Linked DNA regions of Homo sapiens. The protein of the gene in region 1 purifies or fractionates together with the protein of each later gene. This does not show direct contact. Each region holds a gene or a part of one and is shown in the gene's direction. Other genes may lie near its edges. The genes, in order: SLC22A24, FBXO21 and INTS6.

What was found.
Region 2: the proteins of SLC22A24 (region 1) and FBXO21 purify together in Homo sapiens (affinity purification with mass spectrometry; one large-scale study listed by BioGRID and IntAct). This does not show direct contact.
Region 3: the proteins of SLC22A24 (region 1) and INTS6 purify together in Homo sapiens (affinity purification with mass spectrometry; one large-scale study listed by BioGRID and IntAct). This does not show direct contact.

What each region holds. Positions count from the first base shown.
Region 1 is NC_000011.10:63,142,114-63,145,869, reverse strand, and holds the start of SLC22A24 (steroid transmembrane transporter SLC22A24), read left to right. Parts: upstream 1-1,648; 5' UTR 1,649-2,090; coding exon 2,091-2,492; intron 2,493-3,756. UniProt on the Homo sapiens protein: Renal transmembrane organic anion/dicarboxylate exchanger that participates in the reabsorption of conjugated steroids including estradiol-17beta-D-glucuronide (or 17beta-estradiol 17-O-(beta-D-glucuronate)), androstanediol glucuronide (or 5alpha-androstane-3alpha,17beta-diol 3-O-(beta-D-glucuronate)), and estrone 3-sulfate, as well as bile acids taurocholate and glycocholate, driven by an outward gradient of dicarboxylates such as glutarate or succinate.
Region 2 is NC_000012.12:117,173,410-117,177,065, reverse strand, and holds part of FBXO21 (F-box only protein 21), read left to right. Parts: intron 1-2,268; coding exon 2,269-2,415; intron 2,416-2,724; coding exon 2,725-2,861; intron 2,862-3,656. UniProt on the Homo sapiens protein: Substrate-recognition component of the SCF (SKP1-CUL1-F-box protein)-type E3 ubiquitin ligase complex.
Region 3 is NC_000013.11:51,376,439-51,380,094, reverse strand, and holds part of INTS6 (integrator complex subunit 6), read left to right. Parts: intron 1-522; coding exon 523-633; intron 634-1,640; coding exon 1,641-1,856; intron 1,857-3,656. UniProt on the Homo sapiens protein: Component of the integrator complex, a multiprotein complex that terminates RNA polymerase II (Pol II) transcription in the promoter-proximal region of genes.

The sequences.
Region 1 (3,756 bases):
ATGAAAGAATATGTGAGGACATGACGAGAAGGCAGCTATTGACAAACCAAAGAGAGAGGCTCAGAGGAAATCAAATCTGTTGACACCTTGATCTTAGACTTTCAGCCTTCAGAACTGTGAGAAAATAAACTTCTGTAAAGTCACCTTCTGTTAAGTCTGTGGTATTTTGTTATGCAGCCCTAGTGAACTAAAACATTTCTAACAATTTACAACAAAACCCTGTGATGTATTAGATTTCCTGTTTGGAATAGATCCATGAAAGTCATTTCCTGAACAGAGAATCTCTGCAGGCTGGACAGGAATCTGCTTTTTTTTTTTTTTTTTTTTTTTTTTTTTTTTTTTTTTGAGACAGAGTCTTGCTGTGTCACCCAGGCTGGAGTGCAGTGGCACAATCTCAGCTCACTGCAACCTTCACTCCCAGGTTCAAGTGGCTCTCCTGCCTCAGCCTCCTGAGTAGCTGGGATTATGGGTGTGAGCCACTGCACCCATCCAGGAATCTGCATCTTAAGATGTTTCACGGGTGACCAGTTTGAAATTCAAAAATAAGAACTTCTTGTAGGCAGAATAAATTCTGGAGATTCTGTTTGTTTCTTTGGGTTTCTTTTTAATCAACCTGTCTTTTCCCATTATATCCGTGCATGCTATTTAGCTGCTAGCTTTTGAATATCCTTGTAGGTACACAATTATGCCACACCTTTAACTGTAATTGTGTACTTATTATTCCCTCATTTAAAAATTGACTCTTGCAGTCCCTCATCCACTGCTTCATTATCTCAAGAATCTTCCCACAAGAGTAGGTCAAGCTGGCTGGGCATGGTGGCTCATGCCTGTAATCCCAGCACTTTCAGAGGCTGAGGTGGGCAGATCACATGAGGTCAGGAGTTTGAGGCCAGCCTGGCCAATATGATGAAACCCCTTCTCCATAAAAAATACAAAAATTAGCTGGGCATGTGGGTGAATGCCTGTAATCCCAGCTACTTGGGAGGCTGAGACATGAGAATTGATTGAACCCAGGAGGTCAAGGCTGCAGAGAGCCAAGATCCCACCGCTGCACTCCAGCCTGGTGACAGAGTGATACTTTGTCTCAAAAAAAAAAAGAGTAGGTAAAGTTAATTTGTAGAGGGATGACTCCCCTGCTCCATGGCATCTATCCAGGTATCATTAAACAGTTTCTCCTTAATCTTCCATAGCACACTGTGTATCTTCCTTATAGTTATATGATGACATTACAGTACAATTATTTACAAACCTATCATTTATATGAGACATTGAGCTCAAATTTTATTTTAAACTTATAAATAAATATATGTAAGTTAACATTGCTTTATTTACAGCAATAGCACCAGAAAGCCCAAAATGATATTTGAATGAATCAATAAATCTGGTGAAATATACTACTATAATACATAAAAGCACTATTTCCTTTCTCTTTGTTTCTTATCCTAATTTCCCTATTTTAAAAAATCTTTAAAGCCCTGTCATTGGTATGACTTGAACTGAAGCAGAACTACACTTAGCAAAAGTCAATGTTTAAACTCAACATTCCACTTTCCTTTAACTAAGAATAGTTTTTATTAACTTTTAGTAAAACTCAGTCCTAGTCCAAAAAAAGCCCTGCTCTCTGATCTTTGTACAAGAACATCATAAAGCAATTCACTTTGGATTTTCTAATATCCCATTTCTAAGAAGAATGGCAGACTATTGAACAGGTGTATTTTAGGTCACGTGGGGACTGCATCCACCTGAAAATCCACCGTTGACTTATCAGGAAACTCAGAGATCAGGATCTTTCACAGAGTAGTCTTTTAAGAAGATTCAGTTGTCAACAGCTAGCAGTCTCTTTGCCAAATAATTATATCTGTGACTTCTGAAACTATTTGGCTGCCTAAAGTTAAAGGACTTGGGGAAAGTCCTTCCACTGCTCTTCTGCAGTAGTGTCACACCACTCAGTGCAGGGCCCACCAAGAAGAAAGCAGTGTCAGGATCCACATGGCACTATGGTAACTTTGTGAAAGGGGACATTTTCTCCCTCTGAACTTCTCTTCATAAAGTCATTGTGCTTCCTCTTGGGGATCACCTGTTCAGTCTCAATGGGCTTTGATGTGCTCCTGGATCAAGTGGGTGGCATGGGGAGATTCCAGATTTGTCTGATAGCTTTCTTTTGCATCACCAACATCCTACTGTTCCCTAATATTGTGTTGGAGAACTTCACTGCATTCACCCCTAGTCATCGCTGCTGGGTCCCCCTCCTGGACAATGACACTGTGTCTGACAATGATACCGGGACCCTCAGCAAGGATGACCTCCTGAGAATCTCCATCCCACTGGACTCAAACCTGAGGCCACAGAAGTGTCAGCGCTTTATCCATCCCCAGTGGCAGCTCCTTCACCTGAACGGGACCTTCCCCAACACAAATGAGCCAGACACGGAGCCCTGTGTGGATGGCTGGGTGTACGACAGAAGCTCTTTCCTCTCCACCATCGTGACTGAGGTAAGAGGCCCCATGTAAATCTTCTGTTTATATGATTAAAGTGTTTGGAGTTAACACAAAAAAATTGACTTGCTTTATACCTTTAGTCCTTAGATGGGACCTGCAGTCAGCTCATTCTTCATTCCTTTAGCAGGTGGCAGCACCTGATTATCTATTAATACTCTACGATACAGCCAAGTGTATTAGTATTATATTGGTGTAAAAGTAAATTGTGGTATTAGACCATGAATTTTAAATCATTATAACTAGGCTCAAACACATCTTTATTAATCAAAATAGGAACCATTACAATCAACACATTTTTGGCAATGAGAAATAAGTTTGTTAATTCTGTAACATAAATATCCACGCTTTGGGATTTGACAAATTTTTCTGCATTCTGCTGGTTGTGAAAGTGTTTCTCCTACAAAATGTTGTTGAGATACTTAGTTTTGGTTGTTTTTGTTTTTTGCTTTTTGTTTTTTGAGGGAGGCCAGAGTTTTATTACTACTCAAATTAGTCTCCCTGAGCATTCGGGGAGCAGAGTTTTTAAGGATAACTTGGTGGTTGGGGGGCAGCCAGTGAGCCAAGAGTGCTGACTGATCAGGGCTGAAATCATAGGGAGTCAAAGCTGCCTTCTTGTGCTGAGTCACTTCCTAAGTGGGGGTCACAAGATCAGATGAGCCAGTTTATCGATCTGGGTGGTGACAGCTGATCCATCAAGTGCGGGATCTGCAAAATATCTCAAGCACTGATCTTAGGAGCAGTTTAGGGAGGGTCAGAATCTTGTAGCCTCCAGCTGTGTGACTACTAAATGATAATTTCTAATCCTGTGGCTAACGTTAATCTAGTCCCCAGGCAAGAAGGAGGTCTGCTTTGGGAAAGGCTGTCTTTGTTCAAACTATAAACTACAAACTAAGTTTCTCCCAAAGTTAGTTCAGCCTATGCCCAGGAATGCACAAGGACAGCTTGGAGGTCAGAAGCAAGATGGAGTCGGTTAAGTTAGATCTCTTTCACGGTCTCAGTCATAATTTTGCAAAGGCAGTTTCAATCCCTCCCTTTGGGTTTTATAACACCTTAATCTTAAGATGTAGGCTATGAAGACGGGAAAAGGCCATCTATCACTCCAGCTTCTTCCTGCTGACAGGGGACATAATGGGAATGGGAGTGAACCCCAAGGTGAGAAGAGTGGAACTGCTTTGCTACTGAGTGTATTCATGCAGGCCTGGATGGGCTTCCAAGGCTTGTGTGGCAAAAATATTAGTACTCTCATCTATAGTTTTAG
Region 2 (3,656 bases), on another chromosome or scaffold:
GAAGAAGTTGAGTGGACAGGCAAGATGAAGGGAGTGGAGAATCTTTTTGTTCTTATTAAGTTGAACAGGAACAAAGTGAGACTTCCATTTTTTTTAAAATGATTTTGAATTCCTACAATATTACACAAACATTCCCATAAATTATGGTTATGAAATACAAATATGACTGGTCGTTTACTTTTATTCCCTACTTCTGATGTTTTACCAGATTGTTGATTTTTTTTTCCATTCCAGTGTATCTCATAGTCATGTTCCCATTCTGTTACTATTCCTTTTTTTAAAAAAAATGTATTTATTTTTAGAGACGGGGTCTTGCTATGTCACCTATGCTAGATTCAAACTCCCGTGCTCAAGTGCCACCACACCTGGCTGGCTTCTGTAACTAGTCTCATGCAGTCTATGGCCACCTCTCCTGGCAACAACTTTCTGAGTAATACTTGCTTTCATGAACATTACCCCCCCTTCCCTCCAAGTCAGCCAAAATACCAGTGCCAGCCCCATTAGAAATCTAGCCTTCACCACTGCATGTGAAACCTGCAATGTGGACAACTGATTTCCCTTTTATATTTAACCTCTACCTGCTTTTCAATGCCCTGCATAATCTGGTCCAGACCTTTGCTCCGTACTCTCCAGGATGTCCCATTTGCTCCAGCCAGGCCATTGTCTAGACTGGTGCCCCACAAATACACCTGGCTTCACTTCCTCATTCATGATATCCCTCCTTCTCATAATCCCTCTTGAAAATCCTACTCCCCCTCCATAATTCAGCTCAAGCCTCACTTCCATTAAATTTCCACTGACTACTTGGAGATTTTACTCACCTCAGAGCTACAGTAGCATTTAATAGTAAGCTGTCTTGCATTTTTTCTGTTTCCTGTGTATACATTTGTTTCTGTAACTAGTCCCTAAGCTTCCCGTGTTGTGGTCCTTGTGTTAGGATCACTGTATACCTCACAATGCTTAGTGTAAATGTTTATCAAGTGTATGAAAACCTAGTATCATCCAAAAGGAAATGAAACATCTGTTTCAGTTGATTAAAATAAATTCTCACTGCTAGAATCCCCTCATTTGTATACTGGAGTTGAGAAGCATCCTATCTTCTGTTTATTTCACAGTTAAGAATAGTATATTTTTTTGTAGCTTATGTATGAAAACAAATACTCCTTTTTCATTTTCTAAATACAAAGTTATAATTTTCAAAGAACTTCCACATCAGTGTCATAAGCATTGAGAAGCCATTGGAAGTTGTTTAGTAGTTGAGTGAATGACAGTTGGCTCTCCAAGTTTCTGATCCTTGGTGACTGACTGGAATAATGCTGATGCCATCGAAGAAGTCTGGGAATCATAGCATTAGGAAGGAACGGACTTCAGAAATGTGCAGCATAAACTGCTTCAGCTTCCAGGTAGGGAAGCTGGGGCCCTCGGAGGCCGAGGAGACAGTCCCTGGCTGGTGGCAACACTGGGACTGGGGTCGAGGTGTCTTGACACCCGTTCAACTGCTTTGAGCTCTGGAGCATTGGTAAGGGAGTCCAGGTTCTGAGCTGGTCTGAGATCTCTTTAATTTAAGGTGACTCGAGAGCTTCCCACATAACGGTGTCCTTACCCAAATGATGCTGTTAGCCCTTCAGTCTCTGCTTCCAAAATTACCTAAGACTGTGAAGAGGAGTGATTCTTAAGAGACTGTCTGCAGTGTGCTCTGCACAGCTTTTCAGCTGTAGGTTCCCCGAGCATAACTGTTTATCTCATTGGAAAGTGGGGTTAGCTCCAGAATCCATTTACTGTTCACCCTTGAGATGTGTAATTTGTTGAAATGGCACATCTGTCATGGAGGGCTTTCAAGTTGTTTTTTTTTGTTGTTTTGTTTTTTTAAAGGAACTGCCTTATACCATTAAGTTTTCAGAGTTGTTGGATTTGGAACCTATAACAGCTAGGGAGAGAGAAGTAGCTTGAAAAGATCTCCTTGATGTCATTTACTTCTCTTTGTAATAGAACATGAAACTGCGCCATATACCACGCAGTTTTTTAGTCCATGACTTCTGAGAGAAGTTTGATTTATGTATTTTTTTTTTTAAAGTTAAAGCTACTTTGTTATGAAAATGTTTGTTGCTCCTTCTCAGTGTGTTAGCAGCAAGGTCCATGGCCAAAACATGAAGCTTGTCCAGTGGGATGGTGTAAAGAGCCATGTCCCAGGATGTCCAGGGTAAAATTGCAAACTAATAAGAAAAGGGTAACGTGAGAATTTATTCGGTAATTCTTGTTCATTTTCAGGTGCTGTATATATTGACCAGTACTGCAATCCTCTCTCCGACATCAGCCTCAAAGACATCCAGGCCCAAATTGACAGCATCGTGGAGCTTGTTTGCAAAACCCTTCGGGGCATAAACAGTCGCCACCCCAGCTTGGCCTTCAAGGCAGGTGTGGCATTGCTTTGGATCCAGCTGTATTTATGAAAGAAAATCTAGAGGAATTGGTTAATTTGAGAGATTTGTTAGTGTGCTGCCATTATGTCATGAAAAAGTGATAAAATGACGTGACCACGTGTTTACCTGGTTGAAGTGTTGAACCTAAAACACTTCAAATACATACTGCCTTCTGCTTCCTAGATTGGCAACACTTGATTAATATTGTTAGGCCATTGCCAATGTCTTCATGTTGTGAGTTGTTTGGGGCACCTGTCACAACCTTTTTTGTGCTTGGGTCCCAGAGTAGATCTCTGTGTTTCAGGTGAATCATCCATGATAATGGAAATAGAACTCCAGAGCCAGGTGCTGGATGCCATGAACTATGTCCTTTACGACCAACTGAAGTTCAAGGGGAATCGAATGGATTACTATAATGCCCTCAACTTATATATGCATCAGGTAAATATAGGTACAGTAATATATGGGTATAGTAATATAGGTATAGTAACTTTTTTTTTCTGTTTTTAGAGACAGGGTCTCGCTCTGTTGCTCAGGCTGGAATGCAGTGGCGCGATCATAGCTTACCGCAACCTCAAACTCCTGGGCTCAGGCGATCTTGCCGCCGCACCCTCCTGAGTAGCTAGGACTACATGCCACCACACCCGGCTAATTTTTTATTTTTTGTAGAAATGAGGTCTTGCTATGTTGCCCAGCCTGGTCTCAAACTCCTGGCCTCAAGTGATCCTCCTGCCTTGGCCTCCCAAAGCGCTGGGATTATAGGTGTGAGCCACTGTGCCCATCCTATATGTATTTTTTTAAGCTTCTCTCTGATGGACCGTACATTCTTGAAGGTCAGTACTATGCCTTCCATCTCTGAGTGCTCGATGAAACTTATTTTTCCTTCTGCTGTAAGGATATTGTTGTGGAGTTTATCTGTTTCCTCATGGAGTATCCTCCATATGCAAACCCTTGAGATAAATTTTTGACTAAAAATAGATATTTCTCTGACTCTGTTTGGTCAGTTTGTATCTTGTGAACACTAAACTGTAAAACTAATCAGGGTCCTCTTTGCACTGGCCTCTAGCCATTTGGGAGAACCTGTGGCCCAGCTGTGTCAAGTTTGCATCTGTTATATTTATTTTTTATTTGCTTTCTGCCTAGTTCCATTTTCATATTTAGTTTGTTGCCCTGTCTGCTACTTTCATTTTATTTTGTTATATCGTACACACTTTTCCTTGGAACAGTCTTAAATAC
Region 3 (3,656 bases), on another chromosome or scaffold:
CATTTAATCCCATGACAACCCTGTAAGAGTAGGTATTGTTATTATCCCCATTTTACAAATGAGAAACTAAGCCACAGAGAGCCAGAGAGCTTATTTATAATCTGATCTAGAATCATATAACTAGTGAGTGGTTGAGCAGCTAATTACTCAAAAGTAGAAATCTTGCATTTTCCTTGAGTGTTTTTCACTTACTACCCATGTTTTATCAGAGCTACCTCTAGAATGTGTCTTCTGTCCATTTATTCCAAACCTAGTTTCTCCCAGTGGTACCAAGGAAGACCAGTATCTTATCCTTCTTGTCTTGGGGAGTTATTATGGCCTCTAATCCTTTTTAACTACTTCAAACGGCCTTTCATCCCACTGACAAACATTTTACTGAAACATAAATACGATTGTGTTACTTCCTTATTGAGGAAAAGAAGGGGAAATAATTTTTTGGAGAAAATTTTAAGACAGACTATACATGGAACCATAAGTTTTTAATAAGCTTAATATTGAATGATGTTTTCTTTTTTCCTATAGCCCTTGAAGAAAGCTGTTAGGATGATGGGAGCACCTAACCTAATAGCAGACAGTATGGAATATGGACTTAGTTACAGTGTCATTTCATACCTCAAAAAACTGAGTCAACAGGTAATATCAAGAAATAGAGTGAGCCATTAAGTATTTTGAATGGTTTTGGCTAGGATGGTTAAACAGGTTAAAAGCTAGTTCTTGATGGTTCTAATGGAATTCCATTATATTAATATATTACATTTTAGAGCCATATATTACATAATTCTGTCTCACATCCATGGTGTGCTATGTTTTGAAACATTAATTTGAAAATTATATAATAATTCCTAATTTATGAAAATGGCTTCATGAGTGTGGTCCTAGACTTGCTATATGTGAACATTATTTATCTTTTGAGAAATTTAGATTAGAAAGTCATTTTTCCTTAAAAAAGAAAAAAAAAACTCTTTATGTTTTGAAACCTGCAGATTTTTCTTTCAGAATGGGAGTTTCTTTGAAATGTTTGTAGAAAACACTGAATTTTGTCATTCTGGCCATAAGTCACATTAATAAATACTATAGTAGTCAAGCAGTATATAGTTTAACTGACTGTGAAATTATTAATGTCCTATGAAATACATTATTTCTCCAGTACTTCTGACATTGCTACCTTAACTACAAATCAAAAGGCAGTTTGGGAGGAGTCAAAACATTGCTTCTTGCTTTCCAGGGAAGAACTGCATAATTATTTGCCATATTGATGTGCTAGTAAAAATGTCTTACATAATGATGATTTTAAAAAAATAATTTACCGTCACCCCTGAATTGGGAATACACATTTTTGTTTAGTGTGCATTTATATTTCATGGTTTAGGTATAGTGGGTATTAATAAATAAAATAATAAATTGAAATTGTGTTTGTCCTGCTCCAAAAGTTTAGAGTTGTAATGATTTAAAATCATAAGACATTGTTGTTTAAACTATGTTTAATTTACCCAATACTTGACATAAACTATGCTACTTGAGTTTTTAACTTCTTATATACTTAAAAAATATATATTTAATTTATAGAAGATCATAACCATTAGTATCTGATTTATTAATTTAGATTTTATCAAGATAATTCTGACTTATTTTTACTTTAGGCCAAAATAGAATCTGATCGAGTCATTGGATCTGTAGGCAAAAAAGTAGTACAGGAGACTGGAATAAAAGTCCGGAGCCGATCACATGGTTTATCAATGGCATATAGGAAAGATTTTCAACAACTCCTCCAGGGAATTTCAGAGGATGTCCCTCACAGACTGCTAGACCTTAATATGAAGGAATACACTGGGTTCCAAGTTGCTTTGCTGAATAAGGTAATAATCATGAATTTAGTGCTACTCTAGTTATGTTCTGTTATGTTACTGGATAAATCACATTTTCTGTTAACTCTGACATTCAGTTTATCCAGACTTTAAAGAGTACTTCTGTACTCTTGTAGACTAATGATCATTATACTGTCACTGCTAGAATTAAAACAGTGTACATGGTGTGTGAATGAATGGATAGATTGATGAAGAGTAAACTAACTTGTTTATTTTATAGATGAGAAAACAGAGGTTTAGAAATTGCTTTAAGTTGCAGTAGTGGATGGTAGAATTCACTATAGTTTTGTACTTAAACTGATGACCCTATTAGACCCACAGCATGATCCAAAAATGCTTTGTGAGTACTCATGGTTACAGATATCTTTATCCCAGCAGCCTTTTTGTAGAAATAGGCAAGCTGATTCTAAAATTTATATGGAAATGTAAAGGTCCTGGAATAGCCAAAACAATTTTAGAAGAATAAAGTTGGAAGACTTATATCATCTGATTTTAAAACTTATTGTAAAACTTACTACAGTGATCCATGCAGTGTGGTGCCATCATAAGGATAAACATAGGAGATTAGTGGAACAGAATTGAGTCTAGATGTAGGCCCTCACACACACAGTCAATTCTTAACAAAGATATTAAAATAAGGTAGTGGATAAGAAGACAGTCTTTTAAACAAATGGAACAATTGGATATCCATATGCAAAATAATGAATTTGACCATTACCTCATATTATTTGAAGTGGTCGTGATCTTAAATGTAAGAACAAAAACTATAAACTTCTAGAAGAAAACATAGGAAAAAATCTTTGTGATGTTGAGTTAGCAAAGATTTCTAAAAGCACATAGCAAAAATGTTGATAAATTGAATTTCATTAAAATAAAAAATAAACTTTGCTCTTTAAAAGAAACATTAAAAATGAAGAGGGAAGCTACAGCTTGGGAGAAAAGCACATATCAAATAAAGGACTTGTATCAAAATATATAAAGAATTCATATAACTCAATAATAAAAGGACAAACATGGGCAAAATATTTGAACAGACATTTCACCAAAGAAAATATGCAAATACAAATAAGAACATGAAGTAACACTCAGCCTTATCAGCCATTAGGGAAATGCAAATTAAAACCATAACGAGATACTACTTCATAACTGCTAGAATGAATAAAATTTAAAAGACAAAAAATACAGGGATTGATGAGAATGTGGAGCAACCCTCCTAACATTACTGATAGAAAATAGTTGATATTTTCTTAAGAAGTGTAAACATAAATTTGCTGTACAATCAGTCATTCTACTTGTAGGCTTAGCATGCCAACATGGCAGCATTTTTCATAATAGCCAAAAACTTGTAACAGTCCAAGTGCCCATCAGCTGGTGAATAGATAAAGAAGATGTGGTGTGTCCATATAATAGACTACTACTCTGGAATAAAAAGGAACAAACTACTGATACATGAATAATGTCAATGAATCTCAAAAACATCATGCTAATTGAAAGAAGCCAAGTACAAAAGATTAGACGTTGCAAAATTCCATTTATAAAATGGAGCATAGAAAGAAAGCAAGTCACGTGGTTGCCTGGGGATAGGAATAGTGATTGACTGCAAGTGGGTACAACAAACTTGGGGATGGTGGAAATGGATTATGATGATGGTTTCACAACTATAAATTTACTAACATTCATCAAACTATATACTTAAAATAGGTGATTTTATGGTATATAAATTACACATCAAAGCTGTTTTTTAAAAAACTTCAGTTTTTAAAATTTGGAGATTGATTTTTACTTAAATGA